Homo sapiens: one gene and its partner. The protein of the gene in region 2 purifies or fractionates together with the protein of the main gene of each other region. This does not show direct contact. Each region holds a gene or a part of one and is shown on either strand. Other genes may lie near its edges.

Region 1 (3,500 bases), on a different chromosome or scaffold from region 2:
TTTTTTAGTAGAGACAGGGTTTCACTGTGTTAGCCAGGATGGTCTCGATCTCCTGACCTCGTGATCCGCCCGCCTAGGCCTCCCAAAGTGCTGGGATTACAGGCGTGAGCCACCGCGCCTGGCCCGACAGTGCTAATATATTAATACTAACCAGGATGGCTAATGCCATAATTATCAGCACTGGAAGATGAAGCAGCGCTGGAATTTCCTTCATGAGTGCTTTAATAAATTCCCCAGTTCCTTTTCCAATATGCTTCAATGGCTCCGTTACAAATGTGGTGAATGTAACTGCAAGTGCCTAAAACGAGAGAAAAGCAACTTAATTTTCTCCTCACAGGACTAAGGTACAGAATGCATCAAAATTCATTGAGTACTGATGCTGAAAGTATGTTACATAAATTAAAATGCTGTTGTGCCATTTTTAATGTGAAAATCACTGTGCAAAAGTATTTTTTCTTGGACAAACGCTTATTAGCAAAATGACTCAAACACTAAAGTTCTTTAAAATACAAGGGATTTCTGACTGACTTTAAGTAATTTTTACAAAATATATGCTATACCTTTGTTGGTGGGACCAACCAAATAGGGTTGACTAGTAAGAGCTCATAGTATTTTTGGCATGGGTCATCCTTATAGGTCCATGAACTTCTAAACCATTCTGTTTAGAGAAACAGACAAAACACTGATCATTTCTTTTAATGTTGCATTTCATTCCCAAACAAGACATTACTTTGGTTTTGACCCTCCCTGACCACCCACCAATGAGTTTTAAATTATCTTAAGTTTTAAGTAGACTCCCTGTAATGCTGATTTTTAAATTTTTCATCTTATGTCCAAAATCATGTTTTAAAAATCCATTCAAATTATACATGTTTTATGCAGATAAAAAATTGTATTTTATAAAAATGTCTAAAAGGTAAACACTTTAAAAGCAATGCTTCACAAACACAAATGAGTACAGGTAAAATGGGAAGTCGAAATAAGACTGGTGGATTGTATCAAAGTCAATATCCTGGCTCTGATATTGTACTATTAAAGCTGTGCAAGATGTCACCACTGGAGGAAAATGGGGAAAGGGTACACGGGCTCTCTCTGTAGTATTTCTTACTGTGTGAATCCACAATTACCTCAGTAAATTTTTAATTTAAAAAGTCAGTTCTTTATGGAGTTTACAAAATAAAGTGGAATATTAGTTCTAATTTTTCCAAATCAGGCTTATATACGTTGGGAAACTAGCCTGAGCTAGAGGAGGCATTTCACTGTCCACTGAAGCCAGGAAGGAAGGCTGAATTGGTTTAGTTCCCACAACTTTTTAAGAAACATTTATTTTGGATTCCATCTGCAGAATTCCGTGTCAGTCATGGACTTGCATTTATAAAATGCCTTGGAACATTATTAAACCATCCCCATTGCTAGATACATACAACCAAAGGTAGTGAACATTCATGAGAATGTTTATAAAATGTGAAAGAATAAAAAAACTAATTTTTCCCGTAGTTAAAAAAAAGTAAAGCTACAACATAAAATTTCACAAGTCAATATAAGGCCATTAAATTTAAGATGGATATTAATTCATATATACATTCATTCACTTGTTTAATAAACTTCTATTGAGAATATGCCAGACCCTGTGCAAAGAACGAGATGAACAAAAGCGAGCATAGGATCCTTCACACAGTCTTATGAAGGAAGACAGATAATATCAGAGCCAACATATATACAACTTCTATTCCTTCCCTGTGACTTTAGATGAGCATAAAAAGTCACTGGTTTTAAACCTAAAATGCTTCTTGCATGTTCTTCTGATATTAAAGATTCAGTCATGGAAAGCCTCCTGTTATTTTATCATTCTCTTTGTTCTATGTTCTTTCATTCTCAGAATTTCTATTCAAAATAAGGACAAGTGCACAAACACCTTACCCCAGATACTTCCAGTCCAGTCCATCTTTTTGGCACACACATTGTTTAATGGCTCCATCTTGGCGACTTCAGCCTGATGCTGTGCAAAAGCTAGCTGCCCAACACCAAAAGGGAACCAGGAGAGGCCGTTACCTATGAAGGTTAGGCCTACACATCCAAAAGACCTTCATTCAAAGAGTGTCTTTACCATTCATCCAAACCAGACTGTTATAAATTTTTAATTAAAAAAAAACATATTATTATTACTATTTTTTCTCTTTTTTTCCTGAGACGGAGTCTCGCCCTGTCACCCACGCTGGTGTGCGGTGGCACAATCTCGGCTCACTGCAACCACCACCTCCCGGGTTCAAGCGATTCTCCTGCCTCAGCTTCCCGAGTAGCTGGGATTAAAGGTGCCCGCTACCACGCCCAGCTAATTTTTGTATTTTTAGTAGAGACGGGGTTTCATCATGTTGGCCAGGCTGGTCTTGAACTCCTGACCTCAAGTGATCCGCCCGCCTCAGCCTCCCAAAGTGCTAGGATTATAGGAAAACATATTATTTGTAAAGAGTAGCTATTTCCAGTTCATGGAAAAGTACAGCCTTAATGCAACAAGTAAGCATAAAGTACTAACTACAATTGCCTTCTCTGTAAGTAATTATAATGAAAAAGGGAAACTTTACTAAAAATATTGTTTTTAAAAATTAGTTCAGCCAGGCGTGATAGCACGGGCCTGTAGTCCCAGATAGGAGGCTGAGGCAAGAGAATCGCTTGAACCCGGGAGGTGGAGGTTGCATTGAGCCGAGATTTCACTACTGCACTCCAGCCTGGGGGACAGAGTGAGACTGTCTCAAAAACAACAGCAACAACAACAACAATTAGTTCTAGCCATACAAATTAAATGACTACTTCTTATTTTCTTTTATAGTTGATGATATCCTATTTTGCACTGGATAATTTCCAGTACAATGACCAATATACAATCATTAAGGTGACAATACTCAAGCAACTTTCCTTCCACACAGAATCTGTGTTTAATTTGTAAATAATTAGTTCTAAATACTATAATACTTACAGCAAAAGGTTAAGGAAATGTCACAATGCTTTAACCAGATGAAATCATTGAAAATACTTGGCTACTTGACTCACTCTGCTAGAAAGATCTAAAATTTTCTTTCAATGATTATTATTTATGCTATGTTGATGGGAACAGTAGTGGTCCTTTCCAATTTCTATATACAGTATGATCCCAACTTTGAAAGATAATTAAAATCTAGAAAAATCTAGAAAGAAATACCTTAAACTACTGACAGATTTTCTCTAGGTGATAAAATTATAGGTTATTTTAAAAATTAATTTCCTTGTATCTGCCTTTTCTAAATTCTCTGCCATGAATATACCACTTATTCAAAAAATAACCTAATTTTTAAAAAATAATATTTTGGTATCATTTCTAGCAAAGACATAGAATGACATACTCTAAATTACCTACATGATAATTTTTAAATGTATCCACATAGCTTTATTCTTTTTTTTTTCTTCCTTGTTTTTGAGACAGACCTCACTCTGTGGTCCAGGCTGGAGTGCAGCAGCGCAATCTT
Region 2 (3,500 bases):
ATATTTCTAAATTACATGTTTAGCTTTTCAAAAAATACATAAAATTAACTGTAATCTTACAATACAAAATTTCTCTGAAAATATCCAACTATGTACTAACTATTACAAATATTTATTCCTGATTCACTTTTTCCTTTCACTGTATTCAGGAAAGAAAGTTAATAAAAATGTAATTTAAAAAGAATGATTAAGCTGGGGACAGTGGTGTGTGCCTGTAGTCCCAGCTGGTCAGGTGCCTGAGGTGGGAGGATTGTTTGAGCCCAGTTCAAGGCTGCAGTGTGCTATAATCATGCCATTGCACACCAGCACAGGCAACATAGCAAGACCCCATCTCTTTAAAAAAAAAAAAAAAAGATTAAATTATTAACTTCTAAACTTGGCAATATGGAGAGGTATAGAATGCAGCAATATTTTAGCAGCATGGGCTGCGGATTCACCACTCAATGTGTTAACAGTACTGTAAATTTAATCAGTCAAATCAGGTGGTGTGCATTGTTTTTGAAAGCTTCTACATCTTATGTAAGTGTGTACAATAAGAAATCTGTTAGATTTGACTTGTTACAAAATAACTGTATCAGATCCATGGAAGCACAGGGCCTGAAGAGAGGAATTCTTTGTTTTCTTCTTTCACTGCCACACCTATTCCAGAAGATTCTCTGGAGACTTTAAAAAAAAAATCATTTTTCAGTTTTCCCACAGTAATTTGCCCAGAGCCAGTATCTACTGAGATAATAATTAAAACAGTGTGTCTGGTTTAAGGAGGCATCCAGATAAGGGCTTCCCATGCAGAGAAAGCACCCACAGGAGGGTCAATCTACAGAACTAAGCAAAGCCTGTTATCTGATAAAGATCAAAATTGACTATCTTTAAAACGTTTTTTAGCCATAAAAAAGGATTAGTTCATGTCCTTTGCAGGGACATGGATGAAGCTGGAAACCATCATTCTCAGCAAACTATTACAAGGACAGAAAACCAAACACCGCATGTTCTCACTCATAGGTGGGAACTGAACAATGAGAACACTTGGACACAGGGTGGGGAACATCACACACCTACACCAGGGCCTGTCAGCGGGTGGCGGGCTGGGGGAGGGATAGCATTAGGAGAAATAACTAATGTAAATGATGAGTTGATGGGTGCAGCAAACCAACATGGCACATGTATACCTATGCAACAAACCTGCACGCTGTGGACATGTACCCTAGAACTTACAGTATAATTTAAAAAAAAAAAGTTTTTTGTTGTTGTTTACTGTTACATGCAGATACAACTGAGTATTCACAATATTTTTTGGAGGAGACATTCATTCAACAAATGTGTAATGAACACCTCAAATGTTTTAATTAATAAGTTAGCCATCACACACATTTTATTTTGAGACAGGGTCTCATTCTGTCACCCAGGATGGAGAGTAGTTACTGCGATCTAGGCTCACTGCAACCTCTGCCTCCCCGGCTCAAGTGATCCTCCCACTTCAGCCTCCCCTGTAGCTGGGACTACAGGCATGCACCACCACACCATGCCCCGCTAATATATATATGTATGTATGTGTGTGTGTATATATATTTTTATATGTTTTATATATATTTATATATTATATATCTATATATAAATATATATTATATAAATATATATATAATATAATATATAAATATATATATAATATAATATATATTTTTTTTTGGTAGAGAGGGGGTTTCGTCATGTTGCTCAGGCTGGTCTCGAACTCCTGGGCAATCCACCTGCCTTGGCCTCCCAAAATGCTGGGATTACAGGCGTGAGCCACTGCCCTTATAAAGACATCACCCTCTTCCCTCCAGGAGAACATCTTGCTGTAGAGAGAAAAATAAGAGAAAAGGACAATCCTACCAATGTGTACTGAGTACTATTTAATAAGTACATACAAGAAGGATCCAGAAACTTTTGCAGGTGCACCGTGAGAAAAACAGATCCCCCTGGCTAGGAAGTAAAGAAAGCTTGGCTGGGCATGGTAGCTCACGCCTGTAATCCCAGCACTTTGGGAGGCCAAGGCAGGCAGATCATGAGGTCAGGAGATCGAGACAATCCCGGCCAACACGGTGAAACCCCGTCTCTACTAAAATACAAAAAATTAGCCCGACATGGTGGCGGGTGCCTGTAGTCCCAGCTATTTGGGAGGCTGGGGCAGAGGAATCGCTTGAACCTGGGAGGCGGAGGTTGCAGTGAGCCGAGATCGCACCACTGCACTCCAGCCTGGTGACAGAGCAAGACTCTGTCTCAAAAAAGAAAAAAAAAAAAAAAGGCCGGGCGCGGTGGCTCACGCCTGTAATCCCAGCACTTTGGGAGGCCGAGGCGGGTGGATCATGAGGTCAGGAGATCGAGACCATCCTGGCTAACAAGGTGAAACCCCGTCTCTACTAAAAATACAAAAAATTAGCCGGGCGCGGTGGCGGGCGCCTGTAGTCCCAGCTACTCGGGAGGCTGAGGCAGGAGAATGGCGTGAACCCGGGAAGCGGAGCTTGCAGTGAGCCGAGATTGCGCCACTGCGGTCCGCAGTCCGGCCTGGGCGACAGAGCGAGACTCCGTCTCAAAAAAAAAAAAAAAGGAAAGTTTTACCACGAAAACATGTGAGCTAACCATTAAATTATCTGGACTTGGCAAAATGTTGTTAATGGTTGAAGCTGGGTGATGAATAAATGGGAGGTTTTCGTACTACTTCACTACTTTTGTATGTATGAAAATTTCCTTAATAAAATTTTTAGAAAGTGACTTGGGAGGACAGCAACATTTCAGGGAGAAGGAATAGCATATGCAAAGGCAGAGGCACAAAACTTCCTTAGTTTAAGGAAGGAAACTAACAAATATAAACAAGCTATGCTTACTTGAAGTCAGAGGTGAGGGCTAGAAAGGAATAGAGCTTAAGGAAACCTGTTTTTACTTCTCTCCCAGATACAGAACTTCAAACTGTTTATGGTTGAGACACTCATGAAAAATTAGCCATATATTAAGTCTAAGAGATAAAATTATTACAAATGCTCAAAATGTAGTCTTGTAGTGCACACCATTAATCACAAAGTATATCTACTACAGCACACTTTTAAGTCCATTTTCAATTATTCAATAAACATTTGAGTTTATACCTCATAAGAAACTTGTTTAAAATCAACTGGCTTCAAATTCTTCAATAAATGATAGAGAAAACCATTTCAGGAATGCCAGAATTTAAACATGAGCTCATTCTGAAATTTCCTGTTACTTAACCAGGTATGCTTCTTTTCTAGCTAAAATACGAAAGGCTCACACTTCAGGGCTGGTACCTCCGGTGCATATAATAACTGGTTCTGGCTTTCTCTATGTCCCACAGCACTATTTTGTACCATACAATGAATATTTTAGTATATGGTGTTACGATACTTTAACACTAGACCAGTAGAAGCCGTGGCTAGAAAGCAATGAGACTGTATCAGATACAGTCACTGATAGCGAGGGAGAGGGGCTCCCCCAAGTTCCAAATGACACAG

What was found. Proteins that work in one complex are often made in the same cells at the same time.
Region 1: the proteins of LAPTM4A (region 2) and CLCC1 purify together in Homo sapiens (co-immunoprecipitation; one large-scale study listed by IntAct). This does not show direct contact.

Annotation. Positions count from the first base shown.
Region 1 is NC_000001.11:108,939,485-108,942,984, forward strand, and holds part of CLCC1 (chloride channel CLIC-like protein 1 isoform 1 precursor), read right to left. Parts: intron 2,015-3,500; coding exon 1,921-2,014; intron 659-1,920; coding exon 561-658; intron 299-560; coding exon 152-298; intron 1-151. UniProt on the Homo sapiens protein: Anion-selective channel with Ca(2+)-dependent and voltage-independent gating. Permeable to small monovalent anions with selectivity for bromide > chloride > nitrate > fluoride.
Region 2 is NC_000002.12:20,045,129-20,048,628, forward strand, and holds part of LAPTM4A (lysosomal-associated transmembrane protein 4A), read right to left. Parts: intron 1-3,500. UniProt on the Homo sapiens protein: May function in the transport of nucleosides and/or nucleoside derivatives between the cytosol and the lumen of an intracellular membrane-bound compartment.